Linked DNA regions of Homo sapiens. The protein of the gene in region 2 purifies or fractionates together with the protein of the main gene of each other region. This does not show direct contact. Each region holds a gene or a part of one and is shown on either strand. Other genes may lie near its edges.

Region 1 (5,131 bases), on a different chromosome or scaffold from region 2:
TCATCACACTTACAAGGCAAATAATGACTTGCCAAGAATTCTCCACACCTGACTGAACAAACCCCTTCACCAAAGTAGTGTTTTGGATAAAGTCATTTTTGATAGGGTGAAATAATACCAATTCCATGTAGCGAAGTTTGCTTTTGGGATAATCAGAAAACAACTGACTACTTTATAATGCTCTGAAACTATTCCCACAACCCTCTTTCTTTAAACCTAGAACAGAAAATATGACACTGCTACCTAAACCAGTGGCATTCATATGTGGGCTTCCCAATCTATCTGTCTTCTCACAAGGCTGGAAATAAGGAAGTCCTATACATTCTTAGCAGAAAGATCTCTCCTTCGGGCTCTCTTATTTCCCAACTTGAATGCACATAAGACTGTGTCATTGTCATTGTGTTTTTAACCTGGATCTAGAAGTTACTGATCTGAAATTTACTATAATACTGGGAAACTCATTTTGGTTCCTTTTCAGTACCCCTGAAAGAGAAGCCTCTCATTTTATTTCAGAATGACACAGATGAGTACTATAATTGCTTTCTACTTGCCACATTGCAGTAAGGTACCTATAGATAAAGAGTTAATCAAAAAGATTTCAGTGACCCACATGTAACTCATTTCACCATTGATTTCTGTATTTTAGGGAACACTGGGAACATGTTTAAGATCGAACCGGTCCTAGGCATCATCACCATTTGCAAAGAACCAGACATGACGACGATGGGTCAGTTTGTCCTATCCATCAAAGTCACAGATCAGGGATCCCCGCCAATGTCTGCTACTGCAATTGTGCGCATTTCCGTCACCATGTCTGACAATTCTCACCCCAAGTTCATTCACAAAGACTACCAAGCAGAAGTAAATGAAAATGTTGACATTGGAACATCAGTCATTCTAATCTCTGCCATCAGTCAATCTACCCTCATTTATGAAGTCAAAGATGGAGACATTAATGGGATCTTTACCATAAATCCATATTCTGGAGTCATCACCACTCAGAAGGCCCTGGATTATGAGCGCACATCCTCTTATCAACTCATCATTCAGGCCACCAATATGGCAGGAATGGCTTCCAATGCTACAGTCAATATTCAGATTGTTGATGAAAATGATAATGCCCCAGTTTTTCTCTTTTCTCAATACTCAGGCAGCCTAAGTGAGGCTGCCCCAATTAATAGCATTGTCAGGAGCTTGGATAACAGCCCACTGGTGATTCGAGCCACAGATGCTGACAGCAACCGGAATGCTCTGCTTGTGTATCAGATTGTGGAGTCAACAGCAAAAAAGTTTTTCACGGTGGACTCCAGTACAGGTGCAATCAGAACAATTGCCAACCTGGACCATGAAACCATTGCCCATTTCCATTTTCATGTGCATGTGAGAGACAGTGGTAGCCCCCAACTGACTGCAGAGAGTCCCGTTGAAGTCAACATTGAGGTGACAGATGTGAATGATAACCCACCTGTTTTTACTCAGGCTGTGTTTGAGACTATCTTACTTCTACCTACCTATGTTGGAGTGGAGGTTCTGAAAGTTAGTGCCACAGATCCTGACTCTGAGGTACCCCCTGAACTGACATACAGCCTAATGGAAGGCAGTTTGGATCATTTTTTAATTGACTCAAACAGTGGAGTACTTACCATAAAAAACAACAACCTCTCCAAGGATCACTACATGCTGATAGTTAAGGTGTCTGATGGAAAGTTCTACAGTACCTCCATGGTCACCATCATGGTTAAAGAAGCCATGGACAGCGGCCTCCACTTTACACAAAGCTTCTATTCCACCTCAATCTCAGAGAACAACACTAACATAACCAAAGTTGCTATTGTCAATGCAGTTGGAAATCGCCTTAATGAGCCCTTAAAATACAGCATCTTAAACCCAGGAAATAAGTTCAAGATAAAATCTACCTCAGGGGTCATTCAGACGACTGGAGTCCCCTTTGACCGTGAAGAACAAGAGTTATATGAGCTGGTGGTAGAAGCCAGCCGTGAGCTGGACCATCTGCGTGTGGCCAGAGTGGTGGTCAGGGTTAACATTGAAGACATAAATGACAATTCTCCAGTCTTTGTGGGCCTCCCATACTATGCTGCTGTTCAAGTGGATGCGGAACCCGGGACTCTGATTTATCAGGTGACAGCCATTGACAAAGATAAAGGTCCAAATGGAGAAGTGACCTATGTCCTGCAGGATGACTATGGCCACTTTGAAATTAACCCTAATTCAGGGAATGTTATTTTAAAGGAAGCATTCAACTCTGACTTGTCCAACATTGAGTATGGAGTCACCATCCTAGCCAAGGATGGCGGAAAACCTTCTTTGTCTACATCTGTGGAGCTTCCCATCACTATTGTCAACAAAGCAATGCCTGTGTTTGATAAGCCCTTTTATACAGCATCTGTCAATGAAGACATCAGAATGAACACACCCATCCTAAGCATCAATGCCACCAGTCCAGAAGGCCAAGGCATCATATATATCATTATCGATGGGGACCCTTTTAAACAGTTTAACATTGACTTTGACACTGGGGTCCTGAAAGTTGTTAGCCCTTTGGATTATGAAGTTACATCTGCTTACAAGCTGACAATAAGAGCCAGCGACGCCCTTACTGGTGCTAGGGCTGAAGTCACTGTTGACTTGCTAGTTAATGATGTAAATGACAACCCCCCTATTTTCGATCAGCCTACATACAATACAACACTATCAGAAGCATCTCTTATTGGGACACCTGTTTTACAAGTTGTCTCTATTGATGCAGACTCAGAAAACAATAAAATGGTACATTATCAGATTGTCCAGGATACCTACAATAGCACAGATTATTTTCACATAGATAGCTCAAGTGGCTTAATCCTGACAGCACGAATGCTGGACCATGAGTTAGTACAACACTGCACTTTGAAAGTCAGATCAATAGATAGTGGCTTCCCATCACTGAGCAGTGAGGTTCTCGTTCATATCTACATCTCTGATGTAAATGACAACCCTCCAGTTTTTAATCAGCTCATTTATGAGTCATATGTGAGTGAATTAGCCCCCCGGGGCCATTTTGTAACCTGTGTACAAGCCTCTGATGCAGACAGCTCTGATTTTGACCGGTTGGAATATAGCATTTTATCTGGGAATGACCGGACGAGCTTTCTGATGGACAGCAAGAGTGGAGTTATCACATTGTCCAACCATCGGAAGCAGCGGATGGAGCCTCTGTACAGTCTCAATGTGTCTGTCTCTGATGGGTTGTTCACCAGCACTGCACAGGTGCATATTAGGGTACTTGGGGCTAACTTGTACAGCCCTGCCTTTTCACAAAGCACATACGTAGCTGAGGTGAGAGAGAACGTGGCTGCAGGAACAAAGGTAATTCATGTTCGAGCCACAGATGGTGATCCAGGGACTTATGGGCAGATCAGCTATGCCATCATCAATGACTTTGCCAAGGATCGATTCCTCATAGACAGCAATGGGCAGGTCATCACCACAGAAAGGCTAGACCGGGAAAACCCTCTAGAAGGGGATGTTAGTATTTTTGTGAGGGCCCTTGATGGTGGAGGGAGAACAACTTTCTGCACTGTGAGAGTGATTGTTGTGGATGAAAATGACAATGCTCCCCAGTTCATGACAGTGGAATATAGAGCCAGTGTCAGGGCAGATGTTGGAAGGGGCCACTTGGTCACTCAAGTTCAAGCCATAGATCCCGATGATGGAGCAAATTCAAGGATTACTTATTCCCTCTATAGCGAGGCCTCTGTTTCAGTGGCCGACCTCCTGGAAATCGATCCTGACAATGGCTGGATGGTCACAAAGGGTAATTTTAACCAGCTGAAAAATACAGTGCTTTCGTTCTTTGTCAAAGCAGTAGATGGGGGCATCCCAGTAAAGCACTCCCTCATTCCTGTCTATATCCACGTCTTGCCCCCTGAAACGTTCTTGCCATCATTCACCCAGTCTCAGTATTCCTTTACCATTGCAGAAGATACAGCCATTGGGAGTACAGTGGACACCCTGAGGATTTTGCCCAGTCAGAATGTCTGGTTCAGCACAGTTAATGGGGAACGGCCAGAAAATAACAAAGGGGGCATATTCGTCATAGAACAGGAAACAGGCACTATTAAGCTTGACAAACGCCTTGACCGTGAAACCAGCCCAGCTTTCCACTTTAAAGTAGCAGCCACTATACCCCTGGACAAAGTAGACATTGTGTTTACTGTGGATGTAGATATCAAGGTATTGGATTTGAATGACAACAAGCCAGTCTTTGAAACTTCAAGCTATGACACCATTATAATGGAAGGGATGCCTGTTGGCACCAAACTCACACAAGTGAGAGCTATTGATATGGACTGGGGAGCCAATGGACAAGTCACTTACTCCCTCCACTCGGATTCCCAGCCCGAAAAGGTAATGGAAGCATTCAATATTGACAGCAACACGGGCTGGATCAGTACCTTGAAGGACCTAGATCACGAGACAGACCCCACATTCACCTTCTCTGTGGTGGCCTCTGACCTTGGAGAGGCATTCTCTCTTTCCTCCACGGCCTTGGTCTCTGTCAGAGTGACAGATATAAATGACAATGCACCAGTCTTCGCGCAGGAAGTGTACCGAGGGAATGTGAAGGAGAGCGACCCACCGGGCGAGGTGGTAGCCGTCCTCAGCACCTGGGACAGAGACACATCCGACGTTAATCGCCAAGTGAGCTACCATATTACAGGTGAGTAAATACCCCCAGTTTTCATTATGTGCACTGCTTTATAAAGAAAGATGGAAGATGGCGGGGAGAAGAGTAAGAGAGAAGGAAGATGGGATAAGGAGTCCAGTGTAATGAAGCCTCTCTGGAGCTGAGTAAAGGATCTCTGAGCAGACTGCGTTTTTTGCTTGTTGGCTGTTGCTAACTCAGCCTTAGTTTGGAGTTCACAGGTTTGCTGTAAATGTGTTAACCATATTGGTAACTAGTCTTTGTGTCACCTCTTCCTATTTAAAAAGGAGTCCAGCCAAATATCTCAGTTGAAGGAATGAAAATAACAACTTTTTGGTGGAGAGGTTCTGTTTTTAAGCATGTTCCTTTTTTCTACCTTTTGCAATGCTGAGCAAAACAAATAGCTTGATCACAGTAAGCTTCACA
Region 2 (5,131 bases):
TCTGGCCCCAGGCACTGTCAGCCCCTCCCGCCTTCCACGCCCCCCACTCCAAAAACAGAGGCTTCCAAACACACAGAAATCCCAGGAGCCCCAGGCCCCTGAGCAGTGCTAGGGCCCGGCCTGGCTTTCCCCGGGCCTCACCACGCAGAGTTTGAGTGGTGGGTGCCCATGGGGAGCGGGCAGGGGGCCAGCACTCGGGGAAGCCGCACCAGCCACGTGACAGCAGGGCCCAGGAGGGCGCTTCAGAGGTAGAAGAAGTTACATCAGAGTTTCTACAAACGTATAAAATTCACGTCAGTGCACATGTGCAGAGCAGTGAGATCCCAGGCTGGAGGGATGAGGTGGGCCAGGTCAGGCCCACCCACCAGGCACCCGGCCTCCAGCCCCGGGGGAGGACACACCTACCCCCCAGTGGCCTTCAAGGGCGCCACCAAGCTACACATTGGCCTGGCAAGGGTTCCGGGCAGCTCCGCCCCAGCCTGGCAGGCACACCAGTGCCTCTGCTCACCTCAGGGGCGGCAGGGTTCTGCACACAACCACCCCGCACACCCTTCCTGCCATCTCTACCAAGTCCTGGCAGCAACAAAAAAGGCCAAGCGTCTCACCACCCACAGGGCAGTGCAGCCAAGGAAGAGGTCACTCACGGGCGCAGATGCCACCAGAATGAGAGAAGGCCACACTGCCCAGGACTCTCAGAACCCCCAGGAGGGGGATCTGCTAGGATCAATATCAAGGAGACACTGGCAGTCCCTGGGCCTCCAGGCCCTGCCCTGGCGTCGGTGGGCTCCAACAGCCACCCCCAAGCACCCTGCACCCCAGGAGCCCGAGGCTCCAAAGGCACAGGACCAAGGGACGCTGGCAGCACCCCGACATGACACCCCCAAGACCTGACTCCACCTGGCCCGCCCTGCCCCTCCTGCCCCCAGCATGCCCCGCACCAACTGGGACCAGCCCCAGGCCAAACCCAAACCAAACCAAAAGAGGAAAAAGGCACAACTGTTTGTTTCCATTTTGCTAAAACACTTTACGTCTGTCTGTATATTCCAGATTAACAAAATCTGAGCTGCAAGAAAATAGGGTGCCGATTTCTGTACAGTCTACAAAACTCCCATCCCCAAGCGGGGACCGGGCACCTCCAGGGAGGAATGTACAGGGGAGTGGGGTCTGTACAGTGCTCTGCACACCTCAATTGCTAACAGGACAAAAGGCCCTTGGACGCAGGGCTTCTCTGTCCCTTCGCTCGCTTCTGAAGCGCCTCGTGAGAAGCATCCCTCCATGGCCCTGCACGTGGCCTTGATGCCTGGGACCCAGTTCCGTGGCCCACCCTGCCTGCCACGACCCCTCCCCAATTCCCCCACACAAAGGGGTCTGGGCAAGTGTTTATTCTTCTCCTGCCACCAAAGCCAGGTCCACTTCTAAGCTGAATGTGCAGCCTGTGCCACCCTCCACCTCTGTCTCCCCTTCCAGGCCACCCCCCCCGCCCCCCGTCCAGGGCAGCCCCTGCCTGTGACCTCAGGAAGGAGAGACCAGGAGCATGGCCAGCGGAAGCCGAGGCGGCCACCCCTCTTCCCACCCAGCCCAAGGCAGCGCCCTGCCCCTCCTCCCGGAGGCTGCGGACTCCCTTGCCCCCCACCCTGCCCACACTGCAGGCCAGGGCTGGGAGGCGTGCTCCATGGCAGGAAATGACATCCAATCAGGGTTTCCCTCCAGGTTTCCAACAGCAAAACGCTCCACCCACCCGGCCACCCACCCCCATCACACTGGGCCAGAAACTGTGTCTTAGGGTACAAACTACCGTTTTGTCCCAAGAATTAAAGTCATGCAGAGTGCTATTCTGTCTAAATAACTTATTAGAAAATGTGTTGGTTTCAGGCTGGGAGAAGCTGTGGGCTGGGCGCTGTTGGCAGCAGCCTGGGCTGATAAGATTCACAGGGTGGACCGTCAGCCAGAGGCAGGAGGTCCCCGGGGACATCTGGGAGAGGCCAGCACGATCCAGTGGGCACTGGGGAGAGGGGTCCCATGGACCCCCACCCTGGCTGTGCCACGGACGCCATGGGAGTCACCTGGGTGATGACACCAGTCAGCACAGCCCAGGCAGGGGAGGGGCCGGAGCCAGAGAAATGGAGGGCGTCAGAGCAAAGCAGGTGTGGACAGAGCCGGGCGGCGCGGGGCAGACCAGGCCCTCCAGGAGGTGGGGGCAGGGGCAGGCCCTCCCACAGCCAGCTGGGGGCTGGGGACAGGGGCGCTCACCAGCCCGGGTCTCCGGGTCCAGTCTGGGCAGGGCGGCAGGGCGGGGCTGTGTGCATGCGGCATGCTCAGCCGGGCCACACCCTCGGCATGCGCGGAGCAAAGCAGCGCCGTGGCCAGCTGGGGCCTCCACAGGCAGTGGCGCTGGGGCCGCAGGCGGGGCCGGAGCCTGGCCCCGGGATCTGCTGCAGAGGTTCTGTGCTTGGTGAGCAAGGCTGGGCCTTCCCCAGTGGCGGCGGGCAGGGCAGCGTCATGGACAGCCGCGGTGGTCCAAGATGCCACTCTTCAGGTGGCAAGCCGCCCAGGCAGGTGGGGAAGGGCGAGGGGCTATGGCGACAAACAACCCACCCCCACCAAAGTGTCGCCGAAGAACAACAGCCCCGCACCCCCCGGAACCAGCCAGACAACCGCAGGATGTTGAAAAGGGGAAACCCAACACAAACGCCAATTGAGCGTCTGAAAGCAGGCCGCGCCGGGCGGCGGGCAGGCGGGCAAAGGCGGACAGGGCGGCCGGGGGGGCGGGCGGGCGAGCGGCGGCGGTCACTCCTCGCGCAGCTGCAGGCGGTAGCGGTGGTAGCGGACCTGGAAGAAGAGGCGCTCAGCCAGCGAGAGGGTCATGCCCGGCAGCACGTAGTGGTCACTGGCGCCCATGTGTCTGAAGCCCAGCGACTCGTAGAGCTTGTGGGCGGCCACCTTGACGGCCGTCGTGCCCAGCACCACCGCGGAGTAGTTGTGCACCACGGCGAACTCCAGCACCTTCCGGCCCAGCGCCTTGGCGATGCCCTTGCCTCGGAAACGTGAGTCCACAGACATCCGCAGCAGCTCCACCGTGTTGTCCTCCTCGTGGGCCCGTGCAGCCACAATGCCCACCACGTTGCCATCCAGCACGGCCACCCAGAAGCAGGAGCCTGCAGGGGATAGGGCGGTCAGGGACACCCGGTGAGGAAGGCTGGGGAGACCCCTCCACCTCTGGGGTGAGACAGGGCCCTTGGCACTGCCCCCTCCAGCTGGACACCAAGCCAGGGCAGTGGGACACCCAATCCCGGCAGCCCCCGGGGCCTAGCTACCAGCTCTGCTGGAGCCAAGGGAGGGGGCAGCCACTATTCAGGACAAGCAGGTAGAGCCCCCCTCCAGAGCTCCTTAAGCAGAGAAAGCCAGCCCAACACCTGTTACCCAACAGGCCAACAGCCAGGACCCACTCAAGCCTGGAGGCTGCGCTGCTCAGAGTAGTGGTCAAAGGCCCGAGTCCCTCCTCTGAGACCAAGAGCTGGGGCAGGCTTTGCCCAGTCAGGCCGCTGCCCTCTGCCCAGCTACTCCCAGACCAAATGCCTTGATGGCCCGGGCCACCCTGAACAGGCCATGGTGCAGCCAAACTGCTGTGGCTTCTGGCCACCCAGGGTCACCCGGGCCATCACGGCAAACTCCAGCACCCACAGCAGAGGGCCGCAAAGGGCAGGGGTCAGCAAAGTGCGTCCAGAAGGCTCCCTGCAGCCCAGGAGGAGCTTTCCTATAAATCCAAGTGGGGGACAGGGGATGGCCCCTCTGGCCCCGGCCTCTCCTGGCAGTAGGCCAAGTGGCCAGGCCATCACCCCATCCACAGCACGGCCCAATTCTCACCTCGAGTCAGGCACGAAGCCAGGAGGTGGCGGTCGTGGGGGAGGGGAACCGGCAGGGGAGGAGGAGAGGTGCAGGGGCAGGTTGGGGCGGTTGTGGGAGGGAACCTGCAGGCACTGGCCACAGGGGAAGCCCAGCCACCTCCAGCAGCCAAAGGCAGAGGTGGCACCCAGAGACCTCTCTGAAGACCAAGGGTTTGGCCAGTGGAGGGCCACACAGCCTGCCTGTGGCCCATCCAGCCTCCTACTCAAGGAGGCTCTGCACCTGCCCCGAGCCCCGGGAAGCCCTCCCATCCCTCCCCATTGCCCCTCTGCACAGCCACCAGCCTGCTGGCTCCATGAAGGGGACCTCTGTCTCCTTCACTGCTGGACACTGAGGCCTGGCAGGCAGCTAAAGGGGTACTGAAGGCCCTTCAAGGAGAAGCAGCGTGGGGGGGAGCCACTGGGCACCGCTGCCATCGCCACAGACACGAGCAGCTGGGCCCTCCAAGCTTTGTGCAGCTCCAGGGTTCCCAGGAGGGCTGCCCCTCCTCGGCCCCCTGTCCTGGAGCCCCTGGGGTCTCCCACACCCAACCCCCCATCTCCCTACCCACACAGCATCTCTACCTCCAAGGAGGGGATCCTGGACCAGTATCCCTCCCACCAGCTGGCCTGCCCACCACCCAGGGGTTCTGCCTCTACCTACCCAGGCAAGACGAGAGATCAGGGCCATCCCAGAAGTAGCAACCCCCAGCACCATGTGGCCCTGGGCACACCTCACTCCTCCCAAGACTCGGTTTCCCCATGTGCACAAGCAGCTCCCAGAATCCACCACGGGCCATCAGCAGCTATCCAGCCTCTGCCCTCGTGGGGTGTTCCTGCAGCCCTGCCAGCTACCCCTCCACTCCCTCACACCAGGGAGGCCACGGCCCAGAGGGAGCAGGGCCATGCCCCGTGTGCCCACCGGAGCCCCCTGTGTTGCTGTGGCCTGTGCTTCCTCATGGCCCGTTTCCCCTCCCAAGCAGAGGCTGGCCAGGGCTCAGGGGCTGCTCAGATGCTCTGTTTGGGTTTAGGAAAGGGTCAGGGAGAGCAGCAGGCACCAAGGCCGTGGCGCGGGGGTGGAGCATGGCAGCCAGCGGTGCCAGACACTGCCCCTCCCCTGACACTGACCGGGCTCCTGACAGACCCTGCCCAACCCTTTGGGCCACACTCTGTCCCTCTCGTTGGCCTACAGACGCTCCAGGATCGCAGAGAGCCTCCCACCCCAGAGAGCAGAGTCTTCACCCCTGCGG

The links.
Region 1: the proteins of NAT8L (region 2) and FAT3 purify together in Homo sapiens (affinity purification with mass spectrometry, with the first as the bait; one large-scale study listed by BioGRID). This does not show direct contact.

Annotation. Positions count from the first base shown.
Region 1 is NC_000011.10:92,797,190-92,802,320, forward strand, and holds part of FAT3 (protocadherin Fat 3 isoform 1 precursor), read left to right. Parts: intron 1-646; coding exon 647-4,720; intron 4,721-5,131.
Region 2 is NC_000004.12:2,061,784-2,066,914, reverse strand, and holds part of NAT8L (N-acetylaspartate synthetase), read right to left. Parts: intron 3,156-5,131; coding exon 2,788-3,155; 3' UTR 1-2,787. UniProt on the Homo sapiens protein: Catalyzes the synthesis of N-acetylaspartate acid (NAA) from L-aspartate and acetyl-CoA. Promotes dopamine uptake by regulating TNF-alpha expression. Attenuates methamphetamine-induced inhibition of dopamine uptake.